Linked DNA regions of Homo sapiens: region 1 is linked to region 2. The links come from fine-mapping of genetic effects on gene expression. A gene starts in region 2. The other region holds a variant in brackets. All regions are shown on one strand. Distances are from middle to middle.

What was found.
Region 1: its variant is fine-mapped to the expression of CMTM8 in whole blood (GTEx, PIP above 0.99).

The regions. Positions count from the first base shown.
Region 1 is chr3:32,274,185-32,290,982 of GRCh38, forward strand. The region is part of intron 1 of CMTM8 (CKLF like MARVEL transmembrane domain containing 8); the gene reads left to right. Among named protein-coding and RNA genes, the nearest start is that of CMTM8, 44 kb to the left of the region's middle. RefSeq lists an enhancer at 14,865-14,914. The variant G/A (reference allele first, on the strand shown) is at 9,597.
Region 2 is chr3:32,229,553-32,244,360 of GRCh38, forward strand. It overlaps CMTM8 (CKLF like MARVEL transmembrane domain containing 8), which reads left to right and starts at 9,128. Exons shown (of 4, transcript NM_178868.5): 1 at 9,128-9,567. The coding sequence starts at 9,421. It also overlaps the pseudogene SMIM11P2. RefSeq lists a silencer at 8,932-9,141.

The DNA of each region.
Region 1 (16,798 bases), 46 kb after region 2:
CTGCGGTCCCAGCTACTTGGGAAGCTGAAGTGGGAGGATTGCTTGAGCCCAGGAGGTTAAGGCTGCAGTGAGTAGTGATCATGCCACTGCACTCCAGCCTGGGTGACCCTGTCTCAAAAAAAAAAAAAAATTTCATGTTTTACCCATACTTGTTTCATTTGGGAGGATACCCAGTCTGTCACAGTGCTAGAAATTGAAGTCAGAATTCCTTTAATTTTTTATTTTAAAAAAGTTCAAGGCGCTAAGAAAAGTTGTAAGGACAGTATAGTGACCTTCCTCATACTTTCACTGTAATTTCTGAAATGTAAATATCCTGCTTCATCCTTCCTCCTTCCTGTCTGTCTGCTTCATATTTTATGGAACCAATTGAGAGTAGGTTGCAGACATCACACTCCTAAATACCCTAGCTATTCCAGCATGCATCTCTAAAGGACAAAAGTATTCTCCTGCATAACCACAGTGTAACTATCATTCTCAAATTTTACCAAATTGTCCTAATAATGTTCCTTATATTCTTTTTCCCTGTCCAAGATAGAGCACAAGATCACATATTACATATAGTCATCATGTCTTCTTTAGTGTCCTTTAGTCTAGAATACTCAGTCTTTGTCTTTCATGACCTTGACAATTTTGAAGAATCCAAGTGAGCTGTTTGGGGAATGCTCTGCAAATTATGTGTGTGTGGTGTTTCCTCATGAGTAGATTCAGGTTATGTGTTGTTGGCAGAAATCCCACTGAAGTGATGTTTGTCCTTCTTAGTACCATACATCAAGGGGCTTGGGATGTCAGTGTATATTGTGATTAGTGAATAAAACTATAATCACTTTTCTTTTTTAAAAGACAGAGTCTCACTCAGTCGCCCTGGCTTGAATGCAGTGGTGCAATCATGGCTCACTGCAGCCTCAACCTCCCAAGGCTCAAGCAGTCCTCCCACCTCAGCCTCCCAAGTAGCTGGGACTACAGGTGTGCACCACCACACCTGGCTAACTTGGGTGTTTGGTTTTTTTTTTTGTGGAGACAGGGTTTTGCCATGTTACTCAGGCTGGTCTCGAACTCCTGAGCTCAAGCAGTCTACCCATCTTGGCCTCCCAAAGTGCTGCTTTTCTGCAAGCTAAATGTGATCTTTTTCTGAGCAGAATGACACAGAATTTGGAGACAAACAGACTTGGCTTTGAGTCTTGGCCCTGCTGCTATTAGCTCTGTGATCTTAAGTGAAATATTTAACATGTTAAAGCATCTGTAAAATATGTCTAATAATACCCACTTCTTAAGATTATTGAAAGAATCAAATGCAAATTCATGTAAATTGTTTAGCACTGGCGCATTGTAAGAACTCATAACCCTTGTTCTGGGGGAGATGATAGTATCCAAATGGCATGGGGGCCGCTCTGTCCCTCAAAGGTATTGGTGAAATCGCTCAGAATCTGTGTGAGGAGCACAAAGGCCCCCCATGTACTTCCTTTTTTTTTTTTTTTTTTTTTTGGGGACAGAGTCTTGCTGTGTCACCCAGGCTGGAGTGTGATAGTGTGACCACAGCTCACTGCAACCTCCACCTCCAGGGCTCAAGCAATTCTCACGCCTCAGCCTCCAGAGTAACTGGGATTACAGGTGTGCATCACCATGCCTGGCTAATTTTTGTATTTTTAGGAGAGATGGGGTTTCGCTATGTTGGCCAGGCTGGTCTTAAACTCCTGGCCTCAAGTGATCTGCCTGACTCAGCCTCCCAAAGTCTGGGATCACAGGTGTGAGTTACCACTCGTATGTACTTCAGTTAATTCCCAAAGAGCCCGTATTCTCTTGCCCTTTTCTGCCATCTCACCCACCTCCTTTATCCTTTGCTGTCATCCATCTCTGGTGTCCGTAAGAAGCTCACTGGTCCCAGTGGTGGGTTGGTTTTAGATGTTGACCAATGACGGGTACAGAGGCTTTTAGAGAATGCAGACCGACCTCCTATTCCATTCTTCTCCCCTTCTGTTTTGTCTCCCTTCCCTCCTGGGTTACTCGTCCTCCTCCTCTCCAAATCCTTCTCCTTCTGTTGTTCAGGGAAACTCTCTCCAGCTCCTACCTCCAAACTGTGTATCTTAATTCAGTGAGGGGGTGCAGAGAAAAGACTTCTCACCAAACCAGAAGCAGCTCCCTAGAGGGCAGTGGGCCTTATAAACAGGAACTTCTTTTCCTGTAACATGATTGTTTTTATTCTCATTGTGCAACAGCAATGCCGTGGATATTTCCTTGATGTTTATTTTGACTTGAGAGGATAGCAAGTGGTTTGAACTTGTATGAGAAATACCTTCATGCTGGCACTGCTTGGCTGGCAATTAGAGTAATTGCCTGTGGCTAGCCATGGACCTTTGCATGGGTGCTTTATCTGAATCCAGAGGAGAAAGCTGGGCTCAGCTGAAATTGCGCCACACAAGATCTTTGTTCTTTGGAGGGGAGTATTAGCTGGGGCCCCAGGCAATGCTGATGCCACTTTGGTTGTTTTCTTGTAACCCGTGTCGTCAATGGTTCCCACAAAATGAGCTTTGGATGTTGCACCTTCTGTGTCTTCCTTTATGCCACCTCCCACTCCTCCTTCATGAAGCTGTTTGTCTGGATGAACTTGTTTGGTGAGGCTGCCAGACCTTCCATATCAAACTGAGGGATGCCTTTTTCACCTGCTGTTTTCTTGCTTCATGATTCTAATATCTAGCCCTGTCTCCTGAGAAATTTTTTTTTTTTGAGATGGGGTCTCACTCTGTCACCCAGGCTAGAGTGCAGCGGCACAATCATAGTGCCCTGCATCCTTGAACTTGGCTCAAGGAATCCTCTTGCCTCGACCTCCCAATAAGCTGGGACTACAGGCACATCCCACCATCCCCGGCTAAGTTACTATTTTTTTTGTAGAGATTGGGGTCTCACCATGTTGCCCAGGCCAGTCTTGAGCTCCTGGGCTCAAGTAATCCTCCCACCTCAGCCTTCCACGTAGCTGGAGCTACAGGTATGCTCCAACACTCCCAGCCCTGAGAAATTATTTAGTCTTGAAAAGGAGAGAAAGGGAGAAGAGAAAGGAACAGAGTTTAATCCTGATAAAGGCTACTGGTGTCCAGGGAGGCCCTACATGGTGAGGCTGTGGGCAAGTAAGGCCCCACGGTGGTTGCTGCTGCTGACTTAGAGGTTTTGTCTGTCCATTTTCCAAGGATTCTCCCTTTGTCTTTCTTTCTTTTTTTATTTTCCTTTTTTTTTTCTTTTTTTGTTGAGACAGAGTCTCACTATGTTACCCAGGCTAGACTCAAACTCCTGGGCTCAGGTGATCCTCCTGCCTCAACCTCCCAAGTAGCTGGTATTACAGGTGTGTGCCACCACATCTGGCTTATTCTCCAGGGAGTGGGACTGCATTTGAGGGTGATGAGAGTTTGCGGGAACTGTGTTGTGTTGTCCAAACTCAAAGGACTCTATTACCCGAAGTTATGTTACTTGTTCCAATGAAGTCTTTATTTTGGAGAGGCCTGTGGACCAGAAATGATACTGGGCCCCAGACCAGTTGTGTTGGCCTATACAGTGTTGAAAATCAGAATTAGTTGCCAGTAAGTAAATATCAGATATTATAAGAAAATCTAGATTTCCATGATCTCTTGGAAAATTGGACAAATGCACAATACTGAGCCCATAGTTCCTCATGGCAGTAATCCTTTGGAGCCAAGAAGTGGCTGCCCTCTGCATGTAAGAGTGTTGGTCAAGATGCATGTTTGACTGTTGTGACAAAGACCAAAACAAGTGGCTTAAACAAGGTGGAAACTTGTTTTTCTGTCATGACAGTCAAAGCACTAATTGCCCAGGGCAGACATGATAGCTCCGTGGTGTCAGAGACGCTGCCCACTTCTGTCGGTTTTCCCTGTTCTCTGCAGTGGGTTCCATCTTCTGATCCAAGATACTGCTTCATTTCCCACCATCCTGTCTGCTCCAGCCTTCAGTAGGATGGAGAAGTAGAGGATCCCTTTCTTCAAGATCCAACCTGGAAGTTACATGTATCATTTCCTCTGGCATCCTGTTGGTCAGAATGTACAGCATGGCCACATCTGACTGCAGATGAAGCTGGGGAAATGTGGTCCTCATCTACGTGGCCATGTGAATAGTTAAAACCCACTTCTTACTAAAGGCAGAATGTGAGAGCGGATGGTATGGACAAACTATATTCTGTGCTGTGAGGGGCCTTGCAGTCACCTATTTGCTGCTATTCTCAGCTCTCTCCAGTCTTCCCGTAATTGAGGTCAAGAGTCATTGTCATTTATTTTCTTGTAACTGATGTGTTTCACTCATTTATGTTACCTGCTTGGTCCCTGTAGGCATTTGAGTTTGCATTCTCAGCTGTGCCCTGATCATCTCTTTCAACACACCTCCATGCTTTTATATTTGTTGCCGCCTCTGTTTAGAATTACCTGGCCTCCCTTTCAGGCCTGGCAAACTCCTTCTCAGGATAACGCAGCCCCATGCTTCCCTTCCCAAATTGAGTTATCTCTGTTAACCATCCTAATATATAAGCTGCCAATTTTACATAATACCTTTTAGTTTACTTACCTTTATATACTTGATGCCCAGAACAGCACTGGGTACATAACAGACTAAGGGTCAGTCCTGTTTACTGAGTGTTCATTCAGTGAAAGACACTTCCTAGAACTTAAAAGCATTTTTAATATCTAACAGTGAAATAGTGTATTAGTCACAGCCTGTACAGCTGTAGATGATGGAAACGTGGCTAAATTGGCTTCCATGACAACAAAAAGGAGGAGCACTTACTGGCTCGTGTATCTGACAAGCTGAGCTATGTGTCAAGCCTCAGGTATGGCTGGAACCAGGAGTTCAATAGATAGCAGGACTCAGTCTCTCTTCTCAGTGTCTTGGCTGTGCTTTCTTCTGAATAAGCTTCATTCTTAGAAAGAGTTTCTCTGCATGATGATGACAAAGATGCCACCCACGGTTCTGTATTTTTCTTATAATTAGTGATTTTTTTTTTTAATTTTTTTTTTATTATACTTTAAGTTTTAGGGTACATGTGCACATTGTGCAGGTTAGTTACATATGTATACATGTGCCATGCTGGTGCGCTGCACCCACCAACGTGTCATCTATCATTAGGTATATCTCCCACTGCTATCCCTCCCCCCTCCCCCGACCCCACCACCGTCCCCAGAGTGTGATATTCCCCTTCCTGTGTCCTTGTGATCTCATTGTTCAATTCCCACCTATGAGTGAGAATATGCGGTGTTTGGTTTTTTGTTCTTGCGATAGTTTACTGAGAATGATGGTTTCCAATTTCATCCATGTCCCTACAAAGGACATGAACTCATCATTTTTTCTGGCTGCATAGTATTCCATGGTGTATATGTGCCACATTTTCTTAATCCAGTCTATCATTGTTGGACATTTGGGTTGGTTCCAAGTCTTTGCTATTGTGAATAATGCCGCAATAAACATACGTGTGCATGTGTCTTTATAGCAGCATGATTTATAGTCATTTGGGTATATACCCAGTAATGGGATGGCTGGGTCAAATGGTATTTCTAGTTCTAGATCCCTGAGGAATCGCCACACTGACTTCCACAATGGTTGAACTAGTTTACAGTCCCACCAACAGTGTAAAAGTGTTCCTATTTCTCCACATCCTCTCCAGCACCTGTTGCTTCCTGACTTTTTAATGATTGCCATTCTAACTGGTGTGAGATGATATCTCATAGTGGTTTTGATTTGCATTTCTCTGATGGCCAGTGATGATGAGCATTTTTTCATGTGTTTTTTGGCTGCATAAATGTCTTCTTTTGAGAAGTGTCTGTTATTAATAATGGGAGACTTTAACACCCCACTGTCAATATAATTAGTGATTTTTTTAAGAAACCATAAATCTATTGCTTCATAGTGGTAACCAAGCACTTCGTAGTGGCCACCAATCAGGAGGAAGTCCCTGATTGACCTAGCTCAGGTCACATGGCCATTCTCAGTCCAGTCAATGTGGCCAGGCATAAGTGAGGGGGGAGAATAGGGTCTGGAAGCAGGGAACCTAAGGCTGATTCACGCTGATTTCCTAGAATGGAATTAAAAGGAAAACCCCAACTTTCCATGCCCAAGTAACAAAAGGATCATAAGCTACTTCCTTTGCACCCCCACCCACTTTTTCTTCGTGGCAGATGGAAAATGGAAAGTACTCTGATTGGTCCCCTTCTGCAACCAATCAGACTGGTCGTGGGCCTAGTCTTTATTTGCATAGGGGTATAACTTTGTAACTTCACTTCAGCCTTTGATTGGTTGCCTTCTGCAATCAATCAGACTGGTCATGGGCCACTTCTTTATTTACATAGGCTGTAACCAAGTAACCAGTGAGAAACCTCTAGAAGGTATTTAAACCCCAGAAAATTCCATAACCAGCATGCTTGAGCCCACTCCCATACTGTGGAGTGTGCTTTCGTTTCAAAAATCTGTAGTTTCATTGCTTCATTTGTGTGTTTTGTCCAATTCTTTGCTCAAAGTGCCAAGAACCTGGATGACTCACAGTCAAGACCCGTCACTGGTAACATAAGTAGTCTGGCCATACCTGGGTCATCTGTCTACTTCTGGTACCTGGGGTGGAGTCGACCCTACTCAAATTACATTGAAGGAAAGGTAGGTCTCCAACACGAGAGAAAATAGGCAAAAAAAAAAAAAAAAAAAAAAAAGTGACAATTATATTTGGAACTACCTTTGTCTCATTTTATAAATAAAGCAGCTGAGGGTGAGAGAGATTATCGTGACCTAAGGTCACAACCAGGAGGCGGCAGAAGTGGGATTCACACCAGATCTTCCTGACTCTAAATGGTAGACTGTTAATTCAGTGCACCCAACTATTTCTGAAGGGAGTTATCCTGGAACTCCCCAAGCCCCATCTCTGCATGGGGACAATCCTGAGGTTTGATGCTCCTGTGTATGACTATTAGTATGTAGAGATACCTTGTAGGCCCACCATGGCAGGATTTTGTGTAGGAGCACATGTTTAGCTGTAAGCTCTGTTTTCCCTGGCACCTCTCTAGTGGCTACACTGTACCTGAAAATATTTCTCTTACCCATCAAAAGAACTCTTTACATTAATAAAAGTTGGAAGAGTCAGGCAGCTGGATTCGTCTCTTCTCTTGGAACGTTTTGATTAATTTAGCACATGCATTCTCATCAAGGGGTGGTGTTGCTTGCAAGGGAGCAAAAACTGGTTCTTGGGGGTAGGGAGGGAAATCTTACCTTTTTTAAATGAATAAAGTACATATATACATGTAGTATCTAAATAGACAGTTTATCTGAGATGTTAAAATTTCCTGGAGATAATATGCTGTGATGAATGCCATCTTGAAAACTGTAACATATCTTCCCTCCAGAAGATATGTCCCTCATTCTTCAACAGTTGTCACCTTTTTTCTCTGCTCCACCTTGCAGCAAAACTTCTTGAATGAGTTGTCTTTATTTCCTAATTCCTCTCATCCCACCTGCTCCTGACTGAACCCTCTCCAATCAGCCTTGTCACTAGTCTACCCAAACAGCTCTTACCAAGGGCACCAGTGACGTCTGTTTTGCCAAGCCAAATGGTCAACTTTCAGTGCTTATCATACTGAGCCTGAAGGCCACATTGACACAGTTGACCCCTCCCCTCAATCCTTTAAATATCTTATTTTCTTGGCTTCAAAGGTCACTGTCCTAATTTTTTTTTCTTATCTCACTGGATGTGTACCTCATCTTCTTTCCTGGTGCCTCCTTATCTCCCCAACTGTAAATACAAGAGTGCCAGGGCTCAGGCCTTAGAACATTCCTCTTTTCCGTCTACACTCATTCCCTCAGAATCATGGCTTTCAACTCTCTCTATAGGTCCTCATTTCTAGCCCCAGCCTAGACTTCTCCCCTGGATCCCAGATTTGTATCTGCCCACTCACCATCTCTTCTGATATGTCTCATAGGCAACTCAGGCTAAGTATCAGTTTTGGGTTAATACAGAGAACAGAGAAACATATTAAAAGAACCCATGAGGACACAGTCAGCAAAATCTAGATTGTGTGTACGGGACAAATGACCCAGTTTTTTCAAAAAATAAATTTTAAAGAAAAAGGAATAGAGGAGATGCCTATAGATTAAAAGAGATTTATGAGATAAAAGTCAGTTGCAATATATGTACCATATTTGGATATTGATCCAAGCAACCATAAAATAATTATGAGATGATCAGGGTTATTTGAATATTGACTGGATATTGGATATTATCATTAATTATTTTTAGCTATGAGAATGGTGATTTGGCGATATTAGAAAAAAATTAAAAAAATATATACCCAGAATGTTATCAATTCTTACCACCTGCAGTATTATCACCCTCAGCCAAACTAACATCCTCTCTTGTATTATTTTTATATTGCCTCTTAGCTGATTTCCCTGCCTATAACCGACCCCCTACACCGGTCTGCTCTCAGCACAACAGCCAGAGATATCCTGGTAAGATGTGTCATGATATTCCACTTCCCATTGCATTTGGAGTGAGAGAGCCAGTCTGTTCAGTTTCAGTCTGCAAGACCCCATGGGTTCCTCCCTTACCTCTCTGACCTTATATCCTGCGCTCCACTCCTGGGTGAGCTGCTCTGGCCCCCTTGCTGCTTTTGTGACACAGCAAGCATGCTCCAGCTCTAGGTGTTTGTATTTTCTCTTCTCCCTGCCTAGAACCCACTTTCTCCAGGTCTTATTTCAGCACCTCCTTTCCCTGAACATTCTGTGTAATAAGTTAACCCTTATCTCCTTAGCCTGCCTAGTATTTTTCCATAGCATTTGTTACCATCTGATGTATGTACTGTTTTTTTGGTCTGATGCTTCCACTAGAACATGAGTTATGTGAGAGTAGAAACTGTATTTTTCATTGCTGTATCCCTAGTACTTAAATTGCACATAACACGCACTAAATAAATGTTGAAAGAAAAATAGTTTTTCATACAGGGGGAGGAAATGTTTATAAATGCTTAGGGGGAGCATGATAATGAAAAAAGTTGAGAATCCCTGCTTTAGCCTTGGGAAGCATGTGGTCATCTTGTCCCTGCTATTACTGTTGTTACTGTATTTACATTTCTCTGTCTTTTCCACCTTGGGATAGTCCGTTTTATCATGTTATAACGTGTCATACAGCAAAACTTTGTGAATTGGCTCCAATTGGGGGAAGAGTCATTTGAGTTTCTTCTCTTCAGACTGAGCGCTTGCTATCTGGCTTCTGTGCTGCAGTCGGGGAGCTCACATCGCAGGCGCATGTAATGTGACCAGCACGTCCCCCGGGAGTTAGCTTCCTTCCCCATGCATGAGCTGGAGCCTGCGGAACAGGATGGCGACAGTTTACTGAGGTGCCATTGATCCCGGGACACGTCTAGGCATTTCAGGCCGGGCAGTTGACCGTCATATGGGTCTCTCCTACATAGCAGGATGTTTACTGTGTCTGCCTTTCAGGATTTATCTTGACACAAAAAACAACTTGTTTTTTACATGCACACATACATCCCCTCCCCTCTGTCCCACCCTCCACACTTGGAGAACTAAGATGTCAGGAAGGCCCCGAGGAGGAATAAGCAAGAAATGAG[G/A]CAATCCAGGCAGGCACTCAGATGTGCTCGTAGTTTATGGCCAGAAAACAGTGCTCTAGGTGTGTTCAGATGACTGTGGTATCTTTTCTGAAACTCCATTTGTAAATATTTATAGCCCACTTCTTTCCAAAAAGGATTTGAAATAGCTTTATGAGTATACATAAACCCACACACAAATATACACTTAGGGCTGGGCACAGTGCCTCACGCCTGTAATTCCAGCACTTTGGGGGAGCCGAGGTGGGCGGATCACCTGAGGTCAGGAGTTCGAGACCAGCCTGGCCAACATGGTGAAACCCTGTCTCTACTAAAAGTACAAAAAATCAGCTGGGTGTGGTGGCACATGCCTGTAGTCCCAGCTACTTGGGAGGCTGAGGCATGAGAATCATTTGAGCCCGGGAGGCAGAGGTTTCAGTGAGCAGAGATTGTGCCACTGCACTCCAGCCTGGGCAACAGAGCGAGACTCCGTCTCAAAAATAAACAACAATAACAAAAAAATATATACACTTAGATTTAACAAAACAAGAGTGGAAAACAAGAAACCTGGCCTGAAAGAACAGGAGGAAGCAGTGAGGGAGTCTTGAGAGTTAAGTCGGGATCTGCGAGGGGAATCACATGCAGCTGGATGCCCTCTGCCAGCCCAGTGCCCAGGGAAGCGGAGTGGGGCTGCCTCACCTTGTCCTCACCTTCTACCAGCCTTTGCATTATATCTCATAATTTTTCCCCTTTAGTCATCACATTGGGTTATCTATTGAAAAATCCGAGTAGCCAACTATATAGTATCATTTAAAAGTGGACATAGGACTTTGAGTAGACATTCTAGGTGATTGGTGCCTGTCTCCAGCACCGACCTGTGATCACAGCTCACAGAGGGCATGAACTGTGTCTGTTCATCTTTGTACTCCAGTACCTGGAAGCCAGGAGGAACTCAATAAATATTTTACTGTATAAATGAATGGCTTTACAGTTCTTCTTACAAGAAAGGAAGAAGCCTGTCAGTTGTTTGAGGGAAAGGTTTTTGTTTTTGTTTTTTCCTGGTTCTATTTTGAGAGTTCTCTCATGTGGGCGATTATATTAGGAATTTTGAGTGGTGTCCTCGGTCTTGTTCTCAAGAAAATTGGGAGAAATGCAGACGCAGGATTCATGTGGCTTTCCTTGTAAGGGGGAAAACTGAAGTCCTGACTTTGATGAGCAGTTTAATGCAGAGTCTGAGAGGCCCCAGCGAAGGTGATCAAGGTACACACCTTTTCCTCATATGACCTGGTTCAAGAGCAAATGGAAATTCCTCAGGGAGGGTAGAGAACAGTCCCTAAATGTTACTGCTTTCAGGGCCACTTTGGGTACATGCTAGAGGTGGTTCAATTTGGGATTATGTAATATAGTAGTAAAAAGCAGGGACCTTGCATAGAATTATACACAAAAATATACCACAAAAAATAATAGTGGTGCAGTGGCTGGGTGCAGTGGCTCACGCCCGTAATCTCAGCACTTTGGGAGGCCGAGGCGGATGGATCACTTGAGGCCAGGAGTTTGAGACCAGCCTGGGCAACATGGTGAAACCCCATCTCTACTAAAAATACAAAAATCAACTGGGCGTGTTGGCACACACGTGTAATTTAAGCTACTCAGAAGGCTGACACATGAAAATTGCTTGAACCTGGAAGGCAGGTTGTGGTGAGCCAAGATGACGCCACTACACTCCAGCCTGGGTGACAGAGCGAGATTCTATCTCAAAAAAAAAAAAAATTAAATTAATAATAATACTAGTAGTACACGTAAAAATGGGTGAAATCTATGTGAAGTGTATTGCGCTCATTTTGGTTTCCTGGTTGTGATAAAGTACTGTAGTTACATAAGGTGCCACTAATTAGATAAATTGGGTGATGGATGTATAACACCTCTCTGCACTGTTTATGAGTCTATAATTAAAAAGCAGGGCCTTGGCAACAGAGTTGTGTTGAATCCCCCATTACCCCAGCTGAGAGGTGACTTTTTTCTCCTGGCATTTAACGTAATTCTTAACTACCTATTTGCTCTGTGCCTTTCTCCCCCAGGAGAAAGCAGAAGCTGAGTCTGTTTTGTTCACTGCTAAATTCTCTGTCTCCTAGCACAGTGTGTGGCACCTGTGTTTTGAAGTCAGATGTTTGGATGAAAGAATAGTTATGGACACAGGTGACTTAAATTCTCTCAGGCGGTCTGCAGTTAGGTCAATACCTCCCTGTCAGGACGATGGGAGAATTAAATGTGTATAATGTAGCTAAAGCTCAGGGCCTTCTGCAAGCAAACACTCAACTTCCGGAGGCGGCAGACTTTTTCCGTCAAGGGTCAGATAGTAGTGGCTTGGGCTTTGCAGAGCATGCAGTCTCTGTTGTAGCGGCCCACCTCTGCCACTGTAGCACAAACGCAGCCAGAGACAATCGGTACATGAATGAGTGTGGTGCATTTAAAAATGCAACTTAAAATCTTTTAAATTGCAAATTAAAAATAATTTTTTTATGAACCTGAAATTTGAATTCTTTCCAACCATTTCAATATATAAAAATCTCTCTTAGCTTATAGGTGGTGGGCTAGATGTGGCCTCAGGTCCACAGTTTGTGCACTGTGATGGGCACTGTCACTTTTGGCAAGCTCCTTCTCCACACTGCTGGCCGCTGGGGTAAACGAAGAAGCTGTGGAAACTATATAATTTGGTGGCAAAGTTAATGTTCCCCACAAAACCAGATCTGTGCAATGAGTTTCTCTCTGGGCTGGGAGGAAGGCTGCTCCTGTGGCCCAGATAAACCCAGCCTGCATTTTGCATGGGAGGCTTTGTAGGATTGGCACCATTTCCCATAGGAAGGCGTAACACACATGTTCTCAGCTCTAGGCAGCTTGCTGTAGAGCAGGGCTGTCCAATCTTTTGGCTCCCCTGGGCCACACTGAAAGAAGAAGAATTGTCTTGGGCCACATATAAAATACACTAACACTAACGGTAGCTGATGAGCTGAAAAAAAAGGGCGCAAAAAAACTCATGTTTTAAGAAAGCTTACAAATTTGTGTTGGGCTGCATTCGAAGCCATCTTGGGCTGTATGCAGCCCGAGGGCCGCAGGTTGGACAAGCTTGCTGTAGCGTGTTGTCCAGGTGCACTTGTCTGCCGGAAAGGGCAGATAGATGTGGGCTCCAGCCCTGCCTGATAGCCTCTCGGCTCTGAGCGTGGGCAGATCTCTCAAGGCCCTCTGAAACTTGGTTTCTTCTGCTTTAAAGGTGGAATGGTGAGGTGCAGTGGCAGCCTATTTGTGGCTGCTTTGCTTAATTTGGGGTTAGCTAATAGCTGTTCCTTTTTTTGTCTAAAGTGGTTATACTGACCCAATCCATTACAAAGTTGCTTTGAGGACTAAAATGAAACAATTTAAGGTGTCTGGCACTTACCCATCATTTTTATTGGGCACCTTCTTAATAATGTTTGAATCTACATAAGGTAAGATCATCTACATTCTTTCAGACACACAGCCATTTACTCCTCTGAATTTGAAGTTTTTCTTCAATTTTTTGTCTTCATAAGAATTAAAATGTTACAGAGTCATAAATTTTGTTTTCCAAGTTTTACCTAAAACCCTCAGATATTTTGCTCCTAAACAGGTTAAGGACCAATGTGATACTGCCCTCACTCTTAAAATCTTGAAATCCTTCAGCTGTTAATACCATTAAACTATTACTAACTGATTTATTTTTGTAGTGTTCAAATAAATTTTAATATAGGTTGGGTGAAATCTAGAAAAGTTGTATATTTTGTCTTTATGTATAATAGGAATTACAAGGAAGTGCCAATTCAGAGTAAAGTTAAATGAAAACATGAGAGTTAGGGAAATAAGGCTTTATTAGAATACACAAATGCCTTCTGTGGTCGATTAGATTGTGAGAATCCAAATAAATATTTTAGAAAATTATTATTTGAATAAAAGTGCACATTATTTTATGTGTCCGCCATTATTTAATGTATTCCCTCAACCATATGGAGATGGCAGAAGAGATATTGATTCAGGCTTTGGTTGTGAGTGAAGGAGATAGGAAAATTATCTGGAGGCTGCTGGTAGGATTATAAGGAAAACCACTAAAGAATCTGGAAATATGTTCATATGCCAGCTGCCCCTCACAAGACAGTATTCCGTGCTTGAAGTTTGGCAAGAGAGAGATGATCCGTTTATGGCTTTAAAAAAAAAGTATTTACAAAATCTTAATTCACACGATACATTATATTTATTTGACATGTTTTATTACGGATCATAAAACTAAAGTTCTGGAAGATTAAGTCACTTTCCAGATATCAAATAGGTAGACCTGGAATCTGAACACAGTTGGCCTGACTTGCAATCCATGGTCTTTTGACAACATCTTTGTTTCTCTGTGTTCAGGACTCTGCTAACACAGGATTTTAGATGATGGGTCCTTGCTCTCAAGGAGCTTACAACTTAATTGAGGAGCTGACTTTCATATATGAGAGTAAGTAGAAGAAAATACAGCTATCATTTCTTTATTTTTTAGAGACAGGGACTTACTCTGTCACTCAGGGTAGAGTTCAGTGACATGATCGCCCACCGTAACCTTGAACTGCTGAACTCAAGTGATCCTCCCACCTCAGCCTCCCAAGTAGCTGGCACTACAGGCACCCACCACACCCAGCTAATTTTTTAAAAACTTTTTTGTAGAGATGGGGGTCTCACTGTGTTGAGTAGGCTATACAGCTATCATTTTTTTTTTGAAATGGAGTCTTGCTCTATCACCCAGGCTGCAGTGCAGTGGCACAATCTCAGCTCACTGCAACCTCCACCTTCCTGGTTCAAACAACTCCCCTGCCTCAGCCTCCTGAGTAGCTAGGACTACAGGCGCCCACCACCACGCCCAGCTAATTTTTTGTATTTTTAGTAGAGACGGCATTTCACCATGTTAGCCAGGATGTTCTCGATCTCCTGACCTCGTGATATGCCCGCCTTGGCCTCCCAAAGTGCTGGGATTACAGGCGTGAGCCACTATATCTGGCCGCAGCTGTCATTTCTAAAGCACCTTTTGGTTTCCAGTGAGCTATCTCAGTCGAATTTCCTATAACTATGAATTAGTTGAGGTACATGCCATTAGCTCATTTTCATGGTGAGGAAACCATGAAAAGGCTCAAAAAGTTAGTGACTTGCCTAAGATTATACCAGTAAGTGACAAAGCCACCATGTGGTACTTTGTGTCTTGCAGTTTCTTTTTTACCGGAAGTCACAAAATCAGCTGCATACAGGGGCCAGGAAGGCAGAATATATGAGCAAAGCACGTTATAAGGCAACAGGGAGCAGTGGGTTTGTGATGAACCAGAGATTGAAACTTCTGTCTGAAGAGGTCACTGCTACTTGGCTACAGCTGATTGTGCCCATAAAGAAGTGAAAGCCCCAACGATAACGGATCTAATTTTTCAGAGATGCCCTAAATCTGAATTTTAATTTAAAATCTCCTGATTAACCTTCTCTTTAAAAATTCTCAGAACACTGAATTAACCAACACTATGTGTGCTAAACAAAACTGTCTTTTGGGCCTCAAGTTTGAGAATGAACTCTGCTGTATACTCTATGGCCTCTAAGACAAACTCTGATGACTTTTCCCCAAATGAGTAGGAAATCAGGAAGCTTCAGAGAGCCATGGTGTCAAAGAAGGCTTCCTGGAGGAGGTGGGATCAGAAAGGAGCCTTGAAGGATGGATAGTAGAAAAGAAGGGAGAGATCCTTCCAGGCTAGGAGAGGGGAGAGAATATACAGTAAGTATTGAGCACAATACCTGAAATATTACCTGAGGTAATAATATTAGCAGTGATGCCAGTATGCTAGTATATTAACAAGAAAGCCAGTCTAACTGAAATAGATGCATAGAAAATGTGGGACCAGCCACCCAAACCTCCAGCAAATACCATACTTAGTGATGAAACATTAGAAGCTTTCTTTTATAAAATCAGGAACATAAGGATCTTATTACCATTTATATTCATCGTAGGCCCTGGAGGCCCTAACCAGTGTAGTAAGACAAGAATAAGAAATACAAGGATGGGGGAAAAAGGAGGCCAGTCATGATGGTGCACACCTGTAATCCCAGCACTTTAGGAGGCCGAGGCCGGTAGATTGCTCGAGCTTAGAAGTTCAAGGTCAGCCTGGGCAACATGGTGAAACCCCATCTCTACAAAATATACAAAAATTAGCCAGGTGTAGTGGTGCACACCTGTAGCCCCAGCTACTTGGGAGGATCACATGAGCCTGGTCAAGGCTGTAGTGAGCTGAGATTGTGCCATTGTACTGCAGCCTGGATGACAGAGTGAGACCCTGTCTCAAAAAAAAGAAAAGAAAAGAAAAACAAACAGTCATTATTCATAATCATATTATCTACGACAAAAATCCAAGAGAATTTACAAAATAGTGTTCAGCATGATTGCTTAATATAAGTCATAATACAAAAGTCAATTCCACTTCTGTACACAAACAATAAACAGTTTGCAAATATTTCTAAAACTTTATATATTACCTTTATGGAGCAAACCTAGAAACTTCATTGAAAGATAAAGATCTAAATAAATGGGAAGCTGTACCATTTTCATGAATGGGAAGCATCAGTATTGTAAGATGTCAGTTCCTAAATAAACACATTCAATGTAATTATAATTCAAATCACAATTTTGTATGAGTATGGATAATGTACATGTATATTAAGCTGCTTCTAAAATGTGTTATATGTGAAACAGGTAGTCCAAGGCCAGCTTTGGAGGACTTTGGTGCTGGAACATGGAGTTTAGACCTGATCCAACCTGCTGCTGTTTCTCAGGCTAGGGCCGGTGTTTGTATTTTCAAGTATTAAAAACAAATTTTTCTGTTATTTTAACAATACAAGCAAATTCTGGAATTTAAAATTTGCCCAAGGGCTTCTGGGTGATTTCAGGCTAGACACTTGTGTTTGTGTTTGCAGTCACATTTATACTGAGTTACAATCATTTGTCATGGGCTAATGACAGAGGAACAAGGCAGACTGATTATATAAGCATCTGGTTAGACCAAGTGCAGGCCAACTAATCTCACAGCCCAGCAAAGGCTTGTAGCAGCTAGTGTGAAATGGTCGAAGAATTACGAGGCTGGCTCATTTTTGTATTTTTTCAAGACACGGGGTTTTGCCATGTTGCCCAGGCTGGTCTTGAACTCTGAATCCCA
Region 2 (14,808 bases):
TCTTGTTGAATGCTTACCATCTGCCAGGCACTAGGCTAGGTGTCCATGGTGAATTCTCTTCTCTCTGGCAATGCCATCATGCTCTGAAGGTTGTGAAGGCCCTCACAGGCAAGGCATCAGGACTCACCACTGTGATAGCGCAGCTCCCATGAAGGCATCCCCTGCTCCTTCCCCACCAGCCTCCACCCTCCGAATGTGTCAGGAGATCTAACTGGCTTTTCTGGTTACAGATTCACCACGTCAAGAGAGGGGAGGAACAGTTTGTCATGCAGTCATACACCTAATGCTAACATTACTTCAGCTTGTGCAATGGAGGCCTTGCTACCCCGGCCCAAAGCCTCTCCCCCAACTCCCAAAGCAACCACAGGCTGGGCCCAAAGGACCAGTTACTTACCTTCCAGCAAAGTGGATTTGAACATGGAAATTAAAAAACAAAGGAGTGATTCTTGGCATTATAAAAGATAGGCAATAGAATTTCCAGAAAAACCTTGTAATACATTTTACCTTTTATTTGCCAGTAACTCTTCAAGAATGCATACTTAAATATATCTTTTGTACAAAGTTGATGTTTTATTGATGTTACTTGGTGGTGACTCTTTAGATAAAGACCCTAGCCACCTTTAAATTTCTCAGCTCCATCTTGTCTCCTCAAATAGTTTACTGTCCATAAACAAACACTTAAATGTTTGTTGGCTCCTTTGGCTCAGAAGAGCCCTCCAATTAATTCTTTCTACAGCAAAAGAACCTGGTAAGCAAATAACCACTCCATAAACTGCTTGCCTAATGTGTTCCTTTCGGAGAGTCTTCTGGTGAGGCATGTTTTGGGTGTAATTACTCTGTTTTGTTTTTTTGTTTTTTTTTTTTTGAGACAGGGTCTCCCTCTGTCACCAGGGAGTGCAGTAGTGAAACTGTGGCTCACTGCAACCTCAACCTCCCAGGCTCAAGCGATTCTCCTGCCTCAGCCTCCTGAGTAGCTGGAACTACAGGTATGTGCCACCATGTCCGGCTAATTTTTTGGGGGTTTTTTGTTTTTGTAAAGATGGGGGGTTTCACCATGTTGTCCAAGCTGGTCTCAAACTCCTGGGCTCAAGCGATCAGCCCACCTCAGCCTCCCAAAGTGCTGAGAGTATAGGCATTAGATGCCATGCCTCGTCTGCTGTCCAGTTTTTTGATGTGCTTCTGATTTCAATTTGCAACTATCGTGGCACTTCTTTAGAAGTTGTCAGCTTTGGATGGACAGGTTCCTGCTCCTCCTTGGGCAGAAAAAGGCGTTAGCTTTAGGACCTTCATATTCACCTTTTCCAAGAACTTTTAAGGGGGCCTAGAATTTTTGTGAGTAAAATACAAATAAAGCCTGTAGGTTTTGGCCCGTGGATTTTCGACAAGGTGCTATTAACATGCACAAGGTATTTTTAGCAGCCACTGCCTTGTGATTTCCCATCATTCCACAGAACTCCTAGAGCAGCTCCTCCAAACTCAGATGATCTTTTCTCTAAAACCAATGTCCATCTCACTTGGGCTTCATCCTCAAACACAGTCATTCATGGGTTTCCATCTGCTTTGTCATTTATGCTGTTTCCTTCTTTGAATGGGCCCCTTCAAGACCTGTTTCAGGTAAACATGCCCTTTCTTCAATAAACCTCAGTTATTTTCTGCTCTGCAACCTGATTGGGGTTAACTAAGCCACCCTACAAAGGACAAAGTTAACTGTGTGTATCCACCCACCCCCACCCCATCCTCTAGTCCTCTTATTGATTTTTGTGGAAAAATGTATGTGTGTATACATTTAAATATATATAAAAATTTAAATTTTCTACTGATTTGTCACAGTAATTGCTAAAAAAAAGTAAAAAGTCTGAAGACCAGGAAAAGACTCAAGTATTTCACCCTTCTAAGATTATACACACACACACACACACACACACACACACACATATATATACACACACATACCCTGTGCCCTTTCCCTATCTGGAACAGGATGGGAGTATGGTTTGACCTCAAGCTTCATAAATGCTCATTCATGGAATTTCTCCACATCTTGCCCTTTGCCAAGTACAATTTACTGAACATTTATTGAAGGAATGGAGAGGGAACAGGGATGACCCATTGTCTCCTATGCTGCGGGGGTAGAGGGTTGAAACTCCCTCTAGCTGCATTTCTCAGCAAACACACTGGTCATAATGCATCTTGTTGGGACAGGTTGTGTCCCTCTTTCTAGAATTTCCTCCCCTGTCCCCTTGTTCTTTCCTTAGCTAACTTTGAATAGCCCTTGAAAATAGTTTAAATGGCTGCTCCTTGAGGAAACTGCCTGAGCCCCAGGCTGACCTCACTGTCCTCCCCTTACATGGGGGTGGCCCTGGGCCCACCTGTGGCCTGGCAGGGGTCCCACCCATCACTGATGTACTGGTCTCTCTCATTCACTTGATGACCTATTCATTAAGGGAAGGGATAGTGTCTTATTGAGTTGTGTATTTTAATAGTGAGTGGCATATTAGATAAATAAATGTTGAGCCAATGGATGCAGCTAAGAACTTTGAGAAATCCATCTTTCTCATTAAGGTCAAGACTCCTAAGAATTTTTTTTTAAAGAGACAGGGTCTTGCTCTGTTTCCCAGGCTGGAGTGCAATGCCACAATCATGGCTCACTGCAGCCTCAACCTCCCGGGCTAGATCCTCCCACCTCAGCCTCCCAAGTGAGTAGCTGGGACTACAGGTATGCACCACCACATCCAGCTAATTTTTGTATTTTCTGTAGAGACAGGGTTTCACCATGTTGCCTAGACTGGTCTTGAACTCCTGGGTTCAAGCAATCCGCCCACCTCGCCTTCCCAAAGTGCTGGCATTACAGGCATGAGCCACTGCCCCAACACAGAAAAATTTTTTTTAAAATCAGTTACCTAATAAAATTATTCAAAGAGTTAAGATAGTGCTTGGCACAAAATAGGCCAACAATAAATTAGTTATTATTACATCTTCTAAGAATGCCTACTTCTAAATAAGTTAATTCTTAACATCCCTCCATAGTCTCCCAATCTGAAACTTCCCTGGTTCAGAAAGCCCTCTTCTGCCATTAGCAGCATCCCATTTGTTTCACGTTTTATTCACCACTCTTCTAAATATTTCCTCCAGCTACTCTGCTCTTAAGCGTCACCCTCTTGACCCAAATTTTGTGTCCTCTGAGGCCTCTGGAGGGCCTTGCAGGGAGGTGGGAGTCTGAGGCAGCTGGAGAGAGAAGAGAAAGTCTTCTTGCTTTGCCTGAATCAGAAGGCATCAACTGATGGTTCTCAGATATGTTTGTTTGGCCCACAAAGGCGACACACTGTGTTTTAAAATAAAGGATACTAGCTGCCAATATTAATTAATAAAAATTGGGATTTCTGTCAACACTAGGCCCAAATTCTTACAAGGCAATAATCAGGTGGGGCAGAAACTGAGATGGCCCCTTTCGAGCATTCGTGCTCCTGTTCGCCACAAACACCCCTGCGCCCGCCCCAACTCCCTATTCTGCCCCAGCTGAGTTCAAACGTTGGGGCTGATTTCATGACATTCACAGTTTCTCCAAGTGTTATTTTCCTCATAGGAAGAGGAAAGTGAAATATTTCTTGTCCCTATGTCTCAAACTAAAGAAAAAAATGAGAGTGAGACCCAGGAGGTCATATGTTTTGAGAAAAATAAAGTGAATGTACTCTTTGCGTAAGTGAAGAATTTGATACAAAGTTAATATGTAAGCCCAAATGTGTCTGGTTCAGAAGAATACAATTCAAGAGGCCATTCTGAAAACAGTCTGGCCCAAATCACTTATTTTCTTACCTTATATGCCTAACCCTGTTGTCATTTGGGCTTAAAACCTCTGGTCAAATTGACAGAGCCTCTTGGAACTCAAACCCACCCGAGATCCAAAAGTTCATTACTGAATGGATTTAGGTTCCATCTCTTCCTATTTTCAAATTGAAGATGGACTAGGCTGACCGGTGGCTTTGGGGACTGGAGTGGGAAGAACACTCTTACTTCTCAGCCAAGCTCCTGTTTTCTTTCGCTATAAGACAGGTATTAATAGCAAGATGAAGGGAGGCAGGACGTTCTAAGATGGATAAACCACAGAATCCAATGTGCCTGGAGAGTGTGAACTACTGTTTGGATTAGACAGCTCTATTTTTAATCAATCATGAGTAATTATTTTTATTTTCTTAACTTTTCTTTTTGAAACAATTTCAGTCTTTAAAAAGTTGCAAAAATAGGCCGGCCATGGTGACTCACACCTGTAATCCTAGCACTTCGGGAGGCCAAGGAGGGCGGATTGCCTGAGCTCAGGAGTTCAAGACCAGCCTGGGCAACACGGTGAAACCCCATCTCTACTGAAAATACAAAAAATTAGCCGGGCGTGGTGGTGGGCGCCTGTAGTCCCAGCTACTCGGGAGGCTGAGGCAGGAGAGTTACTTGAACCCAGGAGGTGGAGGTTGCAGCCTGGGCAACAGAACGAGACTCCATCTCCAAAAAAAAAAAAAAGTTGGGAAAATAGTAAAAAGATTTTATATAAGCTTTTACTGATACTCAAAATGTTAACACTTATTTAAGTATAAGTATCAAAATCACGAAATTAACACTAATACAATGTCATTGTATCAATGTAACACTGATACAATGTTTATCTGATCTACACAATGTATTCTAATTTCACCAATTGTCCCACTATTGTTCTTTTTCCAGCCCAGGCTCTAATCCAGGATGTCACATTGCATTTCATTGTCAGGTCTCCTTAGTCTCTTTTAGTATGGAACAGTTCCTTAGTGTTTGTCTTTCATGAACTTGACACTTAATAAACTGTCCCTCAATTTCAGTCTGTCTGCTCCCTCCTCATGATTAAATTCAGGTTATGCATTTGGTAAGAATATCACAGAAGTGATGTTGTATCCATCTCACTACATCATATTAGGAGGTACATAATGTCTGGTGATATCCCAAAGGTTTCTCCACTGTACAGTTATGAATTTCAAAGGGAGAATAGTATCCTCTGAAGACTTTGAAATGATATATCTTTTTGTTATTTTGTTACTTCTATTTTTTAAGAGATGATGTAAATATCCTTTTTCTCATCACACTTTCACCCACTAATTTTAACATTCATTGATGATTCTTGAATGAAACCACCATAATTTAAAATTAGAATAACAGTGAAGAGAAACATAAACCTATGAAAATTACCTAAAAAATGGGAATGTCCCTTGATCCTCTCTTTCTCAGAGAGCAGGTGGAAGTCATAAGCTGTCCATTTATTTCTTTCAATTATTAATGAGTCCTGGGCTTCCATTGAATGGCCTGGGCCCTACAGACCTTTGAGAGTGCTGTGTCTTATGACTTTGGTTGGTTGAGTAATATGGCCTTGTGGCATCCATATTTTAGACTCTGCATAAACCCTTAACCCTACACTCCATGCTAACAGATCTTAGATTTTTCTGTACTAATTTGCACAGGACCTGCTCATCCTGGCACATGTGGTATCACTTGGGCTGTACCTGTTTCCATTTTCTTCTCCATTTTTACAAATCAAATACTTCCCACAAGTCTCAGCTTGAAGCTGTCTTCTGTGTTAAGTCATTATGGGAGCCCAGGGCTTAGCTTTTCTTTTGACATTTTTCTGCACTTAAGAATGAAGCTTGGAGCCAGCATGGTGGCTCATGCCTGTAATCCCAGCACTTTGGGAGGCTGAGGTGGGAAGATCACTTGAGTTTAGGAATTTGAGACCAGCCTGGGCAACTAAGTGGGACCTCACCTCTACAAAGGATAAAAAACAAATTAGCTGGATGTAGTTGTGCCTGCCTGTAGTCCCAGCTACTCAGGTGGCTGAGTGGGGAGGATTGCTTAAGCCTAGGAGGTCAAGGCTGCAGTGAGCTGTGACTATGCCACTGCACTCCAGCCTGGGTGACAGAACAAGACCCTGTCTCCAAAAAAAAAAAAAAAAGTTTGGGCCTCAGCATTTGTTCAATACCTCCTATAGCAGGGGGCAGACAAGGAAGGGTAATTCATATATCTTGAGAAGTTGTAAAAGAAGTGCATAAAGTCAATGAATTCTAAAACAAAAAAGAAAATAACAACAGCTCATGGAAATCCAAAGAAACCACAGAAAAGGTGGCATTTAAAATGGGCCATGAAGACTGCAGATTGTGAGCTGTGTGTGAAGGTGGGAGGCTTTGTAGGCTAAGAGAAAAGCTGGCTATGGGCATAAAGTGGTCACACTTACAGTGATATATACAAAGTGTATCTGGGGCTGAAACAGTATGCATTCTAAAGTGGTTGAGAAAAGGGATCAGAAGAGATAGGCTGAATATCTTATATAGGCCCTTATGCTGTGCACAGTGGTACCTTAGTCTGGGGTTTCAGGACAATAATTCTTGCAGGAAGACGGAAGGTGGACTGGATAAGGGTGTTATTGGAAGAATGGGCACCAATCAGTAGAGTTTCAGGTGGAAGATAATCACCCAAATGTAGGCAGCAGTTGGAAAGGGGCAGCTAGTTTTCAAGCAACCAGTGTATAATTTTTTCTCTGTGATTCTGAAATCCCAAAAGCTGAAACCAAAATTTTTTTTCCTGAGCTTGCAGAAAACATATTTGGTAGAAAAACATAACCTAAACAGATGTGAAGCTATTTATTGTCTTTGTCTTTATCTCACCTAGATTAAAAGACAGCCACAATTCTTTACTGCTCCTCCCATCCACAGGTGGTATCTGTTTCCCCTCTGCGTGACTCTGGCTGGCCTTGTCATTCATTGGCTTAGACCAATAGAATGTGGTGGAAATGAGTCCGTGTAACCTTCAGGGCTGGGCCTTAAGAGATCTGCTTCTGCATTTGCCCCTCTTAGAAAGTCTCTTCCAGTAGCCAGCTGCCAGGTAGAAGTCCAACCACCATGAGCTTATCATACTGTTAGAAAGCCCAAGTTGAAAGGGCACTGAAATGCTCAAATGGGAATGAAGACTTTTTGGACTTTCTGGCCCTGCCAAGTCACCAACTGAAAGCAGCTGAGTAAATGACTCCAATCACACCATGCAAAGCAGAAGAACCTGCCAGCCAAGCCCTTCCCAAATTCCTGACACAACAGATTTCTGAGCAAATAAAATGGTGATTTTAAGCCACTAATATTTTGTGAACATTTATTACATTGCAGTAGATAATCCAAGCATACACTTATGTCATTCATGATTTCCCTTGCAGAAAATTAGTATATTAGAGTGTCACCCCAGACCTTACCAAAGGTATTATGTAATATATGGTACATGCACATTTTACCTTTCTAAATTGAAAAACAAAATCTGAATTTAGAAATTCATCTGACCCCAGGAATTTTAAGAGAGGATTGTCCTTTGTTAATATTATGGAAATAAAGTTGTCTAGACTCCGTCTTTTACGTTCACTAAATGTCATGCATAATGCTTGAGTCTCCTCCAGCCATTTCATGTATGTATCTCTTATTTCCCCAAACTCATTAACAGTTTCTCTAAAGCAGCAGCTAACTTCAGCATGCATCAGTGTCTTTTGGAGGGCTTGTTCAAACACAGCTTCCTGGCTCCACCCTCAGAGTTTCTGATTCAGAGGGTCTGGGGGTGGGGCTTGAGACCTTGCATTTTTGATAAGTTCCCAGGGAACTTACCTGCTGTTGGTCCAAGGACCACTTTGAGAACTACTGCTCCAGGGAGAAGTGCTATATTTTAAATTTTAAGAATTTACCCACCAGCCCAAGGTGCTTACCAAATGCACATGGATGGAATCTCTCCAAATCTACATCTTTGCCATGCTTTTGAAGCCTTAACTTTTACTCCTGGAGGTCTTCCTGGCTAGGCCCTAGACTTAAAAGACACTAATTCCTTGTTTTATTTTATTAGATTGTCGTTTTTGCTTTCTTCTCAGCACACTTGATAAGACACTGTGAAGAAAATGTCCCTTCTGATCTCGTTTTTAACCTGTCTTGGAACAGATCAGCAGAAATGCCTTCACTGTGAATCAAAGATACCCTCGATTTATAGCCAAAGATTATTTCCTTTTCTTTTGGTGGCTTCCAGATAAAATGTTTCTTGCTACCCTTTCACAAAATAGAAGGAGGGACCAAGCGGAAGATAATCTTTTTGTTCAGAGGTCCATCTGTCAAAGCCTGCATTTTAGAGATGGCATTACTGAGGTCCAAAAACTAGAGCCACTCGCTCTGGGTCATACAGCCGATAAACGCACGCAGCCGAGCTCAGTTCTTCCCTGACCCTGTTACAAACTGCCTCACTAAATGAGGACCCCCATCCCCTTCCCATGCCAGGAAAGCACAGCTCATTTGTCCTAAAGTTAACATTACACAAATCACACCCTTCAAGCCTTCTTGAAACATTTTTTTTCCCCGAGGGTGACGGGACGGTTACGCTGATTCATCCTGGCCAGGGACCCCAAACATCTCCCCTCCTCCGGCCCAGGCGCCGTCACCCAGGCTCCACCGGTCCGCGGGACAGAGCCGCGGAGAGCGCCTGGAAGCGTCGCGCCCTCAAAGCCAAGCGATTAAGTTGGTTCCTCAAATTGTTCCCGACAGGAGGGGCAGGAAATAACACCGGGCTCTGGCGGCGGCCGCAGCAGGAGGGGGAGAAGAGCGGGCCGTCTCCCGGGCAGTGCTGGCGGCCTCTCATCGATCTCGGGTCTAAGGTCCGGCCGGGTCATCATTCCTGCCATTTCCACAGCATTCGAGGTACCACATCACCCCCTGCCTCGGTCGTCGCTCAGTCATTCCCTCCGCGCCGAGTCCTGGAGCGGCGGAGTCCCTGGAGGCCTGGGTTTCCTTAAGGGGCCCCAATGCCCGCAGCCCCCGACCCGCCCAGGTGGAAGGAAACAGGCTGCGGGCCTGGGCCAGGCGGGGCCTGACAGAAGTAAAGGCCGGGAGGGGGAGCGGAAGACGGCCAGAAGGACCCCTGCGCCCTCTCCTCCGCGCCGCCCGCCAGGCTGCCAACCCAGCCACCCTGGGTGCGACGCGGCGCCTTCTCCGCCGCTGGGAGTCGGGCAACAGGTGAAGAGGGCGGGCGTCCGCGGCGCCTCCGCGGGGCGGTCCCTCTCCTGCCCGCCTCCCGCCCGCCCCTCTCCCCGCCCCCTCCCCTCCTCCGGGCCTCCACCGCCTTCCCCGGCTGCCCGGCAGCCTCCCCTCGCTCGCTCTCCTCTTCCTCTAGGGCCCCAGCGCAGCTCGGGAGCCCGCGCACCGAGGCGCTAGGGGCACCGCGCACTAGAGGGACACCCGCCGCGCCTGGACAGCCCCCGGCGGGCGCCCCCCTCGCACCTCCTGCCCCGCGCGGGCCGCGCTCCCCTCCCCCGCGCCTGTGTCCCCAGGGCGCAGGGCCGCGCGTCCAGCCCCAGACCCGCCGGGGTCCCTGGGGACGCGCCAGCCCGGCAGTGGCTCGACGATGGAGGAGCCGCAGCGCGCCCGCTCGCACACAGTCACCACCACCGCCAGCTCCTTCGCAGAGAACTTCTCCACCAGCAGCAGCAGCTTCGCCTACGACCGGGAGTTCCTCCGCACCCTGCCCGGCTTCCTCATCGTGGCCGAGATCGTGAGTGCCGACGGGCCGGGGGTGGCGGGGGGCTCAGCTGGACCCCGGCGCGTGCTTCCGCCGTGCTTCTCGGGATGGAGCCTGCTCAGATCTTCCCGCGGGCTTTAGGGAACCGTTTTTGCTCAGCCTCGCCTTCTTCCCAAAGTGAAAGACTCTAAACAAGGTCCAGGAAACTCGGGCTGTCCTGGGAAGAAAGGGTTGTGATCCTCAGGATGTCTTGCTGTGGGAGAAATTCAGCTTGTTGGGTCCTCTCGGTGGCGGCGGCAGATCCTGGGAGCAGGAAGCTTGGCTTAGTGGCTATTGAGTTTGTGTTGAGTGTCAGAGACACCTGGTGCCTTTCTCACCTGATCTCCACGTGGATGGCCTCCTCCCTGAAAATAAAGCTTCCTAAGATCAGGGGAAGAGGAAAGGGCTTCTTTCTTTTCCTAATTATCTCCCTGGTAGTAACATTGAGGTGAGTCAGGAAAATTTTACTGAATAAAATCTGAGTGCCATAACCTATTTTAGGACCAAAGAGGTCTTTTGCATGGTGCTGTGCACATCCTGGTTTAGGCTCAGAACATTCCTGGGAAGGAGGCAGGGCATGGGCGTTCTTCTCTTCATTGGAGGGCATAGAGGCTGAAAACTCACGTGATCTTCCCAGAAGTCCCAGCCAGTCCTTCATAGCTGAGAAAGGACTGGAGTCCTGTCAGCAGTTAGAGGTGGTCACTGTTTGAGTCTTCTTCGTGTACCAGGATCTTGTCAAGCCCTTTAGATGTCCTCATACCCTCGTGTAATCCAACGACCACCCTCCCCTGTGAAGGCCTAGAGAGGGGACGTAAATCACACCGGTGGATGGTGAAGCATGGATTCAAACCCAGGCCTGCCTTTCTGCAGGGCCGTGCTCATAACTGCAAGCAGTTGAGACAGCTTCCAGCTGCCCCAGCAGTGCCCCTCTGTCATCTCTCACAGACTTTTGTTAAATATTTGGGAATTGAAAATGAGCCTATGTGGGAGTTAGAGAATGGGCACACCATCATGGTGCAGAAGTGACTGAAGACCTGGGCGGTTCCTTTGAGAAACCTGAAGTAAATCTTGTGTACCTCAAGTAGCTTGCTTGCTCCCCCAGTCTCAGATACCACCCGGACCTGCTCTATGAAGCCCCTGGTGGTCATAATGCACATAAGGTATGAGAAGTGTTGGCTTAGCTCCTCTCCCAGCTGGTTCCCTCAGCGAGTATTGAGGACTTCAGGAGACTCAAAAGCTGAAGGTATTGGAATCGCCTTGCAGGGCCTAGCTTTTAGGAGTTCAACAAATATTTGCTGTGCAAATGAAGGAGTTGGCAGGCTCCTCTGCTTCAGCAGCGCAAACAAAAGCTAAAATGACAGAGATGGGCCTTCTACCTTGGGGTGGATTTGGGCCAGGCATGAAGTATAACGCCTTTGGGTTTTTTTCTGATTTATTATCGATATGCTCTGTGTACTGCGCTTTTTCAGGAAATACAAAAGTGAAAGAAATGTAAGTGGCCCACAATCCCATTACTAGAAATAATCACTGTTGACATGTTAGCATGTATCCTTTTAGATTTCATTAAGCGTTTTGAAAAAGATGGGAAAACATGTAAGCAAAATCACCCTTATTACTACTATAGTTTTTATTTTTGACAGAGCTAATTATGCACCTTTTTTGTTTGTTTTGTTTTGTTTTGAGACAGGGTTTTGCTCTGTCTCCCAGGCTGAGGTGCGGTGGCACCATCATGGTTCACTGCCGCCTTGACCTCTTGGGCTCAAGCGATCTTCCCATCTCAGCCTCCCAAGTAGCTGAGACCACAGGCATGCACCAACACACTTGGATAATTTTTAATTTTTTTCTAGGGACGGGGTCTCTCTGTGTTGCCCAGGCTGCTCTGAAACTCCTAGGCTCAAGCAATCCTCCTGCCTTGGCCTCCTAAGGTGCTGGGATTGTAGGCATGAACCACTGTGCCCCACCTTATGCACATATTTTAAAGATTCGGTCCTACAGGCAGAAATATAAGTTTCTCCCAGTGTCTTCATCTCTTTGAGCTCTAAACAACGTGTTTATAATGCTGTTTATTGGTGTTCCCTCACCCACCCAGTCATAGACATTATCCATTGCCTTTCTACTCTGAAAGATGAGGCTTTAGCTGGGATGCCCTCTTCCCTGCCTCCAATTATACATACCCTCTTCCTGTCTCCCAATATAGGTCCAAACACTTCTGATGGTTCAACTTAGGAATTTTCAGCTTTACAGATGTTGTAAAAGCAGTATGCATTCAGTAGAAATCATACTTCGAATTTTGAATTTTGGTCTTTTCCCAGGCTAATGATATTCGGTAGATATTTTTTCATGATGCTGGTCAGCTCTCAGCCACCCATGCCATCACCAGCGCAAACCACCCATCCTCTCCAGCATGCTGTGCTGCTGGGTGATTCTGCCAGCTGTAGGCTAACCTAAGTGTTCTGAGCACGTTTAAGATAGGCTAGGCTTAGCTATGATGTTTGGTAGGCTAGGGGTATTAAATGCATTTTTGACTTCGGATACTTTCCACTTAGGATGGGTTTATCAGGATGTAACCTCATTGTTAAGTCAAGGGGCATCTGTATAGTCTTCAGGTGATTTGGGTTAGATCAGCAGCCAGTGTTGACCTATGACACTGTAAATACCACTTACAACTGACCCAGTGCGTAGACTATGAATGCTTTTCCTTTCCTGCCCAATTTCTTGTTTGCCCTGGTGTTAGTAATTCTCTTTTCTCATTTCATAATTTCTCCAGATATTTAGTCACTAATTTAACCCTAGTTGTTTAAGTCTCCTATCAAGAAGCTGAGAGACATCAGGTATTCTGTCAGAATCGTCTTCATGACTGGCCTCTCTGGGAGCCTCTGGCCTGGTGGCCTGCACACAGCTGGCCGACTGGGCTCTCCTGCACCATCACTCTGAAGATTCTCTTCCTTTCTTTCCTGGGTTGGATCCTCTGCTTCCCATGTCCAGTGTCCTCTGTCTTGCTTTGCTCCCACTGGGGGGACACACAGCCTCTTGTAGTTTTCTAAGAAAGCATGCATGTGGAAATGGAAATTTGCACCTTTCAGAATAGCTTGATTCTATACACAATTCCTAGTTCAACTAGGTAGAGAGTGTTAGACTGAAAATGTTTTTCTTCAGAATTTAAAATGTATTCTTTTATTGTCCTTTAGCTATTCTGATTTAATTTTGTTTTGTTTTGTTTGAGACAGTGTCTTACTCTGTCATCAGGCTGGAGTGTAGTGGTATGATCACAGTGCAACCTACCCCTCCTGGGCTCAAGTGATCCTCCCACCTCAGCCTCCCAAGCCAGCTGTGACCACAGGCATGGGCCACCATGCCTGGTGGATGATTTTTTTGTATTTTTTGTAGAGACAGGGTTTCGCCATGTTGCTCAGGCTGGTCTCGAACTCCTGAACTCAAGTGATCTGCCCACCTCGGCCTCCCAAAGTTCTGGGATTATAGGCATGGGCCACTGCACCTGGCTGTAAAAATTTTTATTTCAATTATTTATCTCCCTCTACCCCCTGACTTCTGGAAATGTGTTGAACCTTCTTTTTCCCAGAGATCTAAAATATCACAATGATGTGCCTTCATATGAGTGTGTTTTCTCCCAGTGTACTGGGCACCTGGTGTGTTCTCTCAAATAAGGAAAATTCACGTAAGTTTCAGGAGACTCCTCCCCATTTTTACAAAGGTATTTTAGTAAACAAAATACAATTTTTTTTTTTTTTTGAGACAGAGTCTGGTTCAGTTGCCCAGGCTGGAGTGCAGTGGGTCTCATAATGTCACTCAGGCTGGAATTGCAGTAGTGCAATCCCAGCTCACTGCAACCTCTGCCTCCTGGGTTCAGGCAATTCTGGTGCCTTAGCCTCCCAAGTAGCTGGGATTATAGGCGTGCACCACCAAGCCTACCTAATTTTTGTATTTTTCATAGAGACAGGGTTTCGCCATGTTGGCTGGGCTGGTCTCGAATTCCTGACCTCAAGTGATCCACCTGTCTCAGCCTCCCAAAGTGCTGGGATTACAGGTGTGAGCCACCTCACCTAACCAAAATAAAATGATAGCTCTCTTAAAAGTTTATAAAAATAAACATTTATACATTGTTGGTCAGGCGTGGTGGTTCACACCTGCAGTCCCAGCACTTTGGGAGGCTGAGGCCAGCAGATTGCCTGAGCCCAGGAGTTTGAGACCAGCCCAGCCAACATGGCGAAAACCCATCTCTACTGAAAATACAAAAATTAGCCCAGCATGGTGCTGGGCATCTGTAGTCTCAGCTACTCGGGAGGCTGAGGCAGAAGGATCATTTGACCCCAGGAGGTCGAGGTTGCAGTGAGCTGGGATTGCGCCACTGCATTCCAACCTGGGTAACATTGTGAGACCCTGTCTCAAAAAAAAAAAAAAAAAAAATCACATTCTTTTAAAAGTATAGGTTGGGAGTGTATCCTCGGACACATTTTTGGATAATTGTCTTCTCTTCTCAGCTGCAGTCCACTCAGACTGACTTTTACATTGTGAATTCAGGAAGGCAGTACAGCTCACTGTGGTTGAATGCATTTGACCTGTGTTCAGTTTCTGGTTCTGCTCTTCACCATGTACAGTGTGAGCCATTCTTTCAATTCGAAAGTATCTCATAGAGTTGTCAGGACCCAAACAACACAGCTGTGCATGAAATGCTTAGCAAAATACCCTGGATTACTCTTCAGTTATCTCCTTCTCTCATTGATGCCTCTCTTCAGCTTCCAGTTTTGCTGTTTTGCTTCCAGCCTTTTCCTTTGGTATATTTTAACTCCAGCAAATGCCAGACAGAGAATTAATGGTTTCTCTGCCAAGATATTATAGCAGCAGGGATGAGTATTCAAGCATCTTCCAGTTCATGGTAGACCAACTTTGAATTCACTCCTGATCAACATAGCTGCCCCCTGCGCCGCCCTGACAAGTACGTGAGGAGAGGGAGCTGTGGAAGGTCAGGTCCAGGGAGCTAGAAGGTTTGATAGTTTCTGGCTGCAGAACCACCTGCACTTGCCCTGCACACCAACCAAGATCTTACCTAAGGAGTTTTTTTGAGACAGAGTCTCACTGTGTCACCCAGGCTGGAGAGTGCAGTGGCACAATCATAGCTCACTGCAACCTGGAACTCCTGGGCTCGAACAGTCCTCCCGCCACAGTCTCCTGAGGAACTGGGATTACAGACATGCACTGCCAATTCTCAGCTAATTT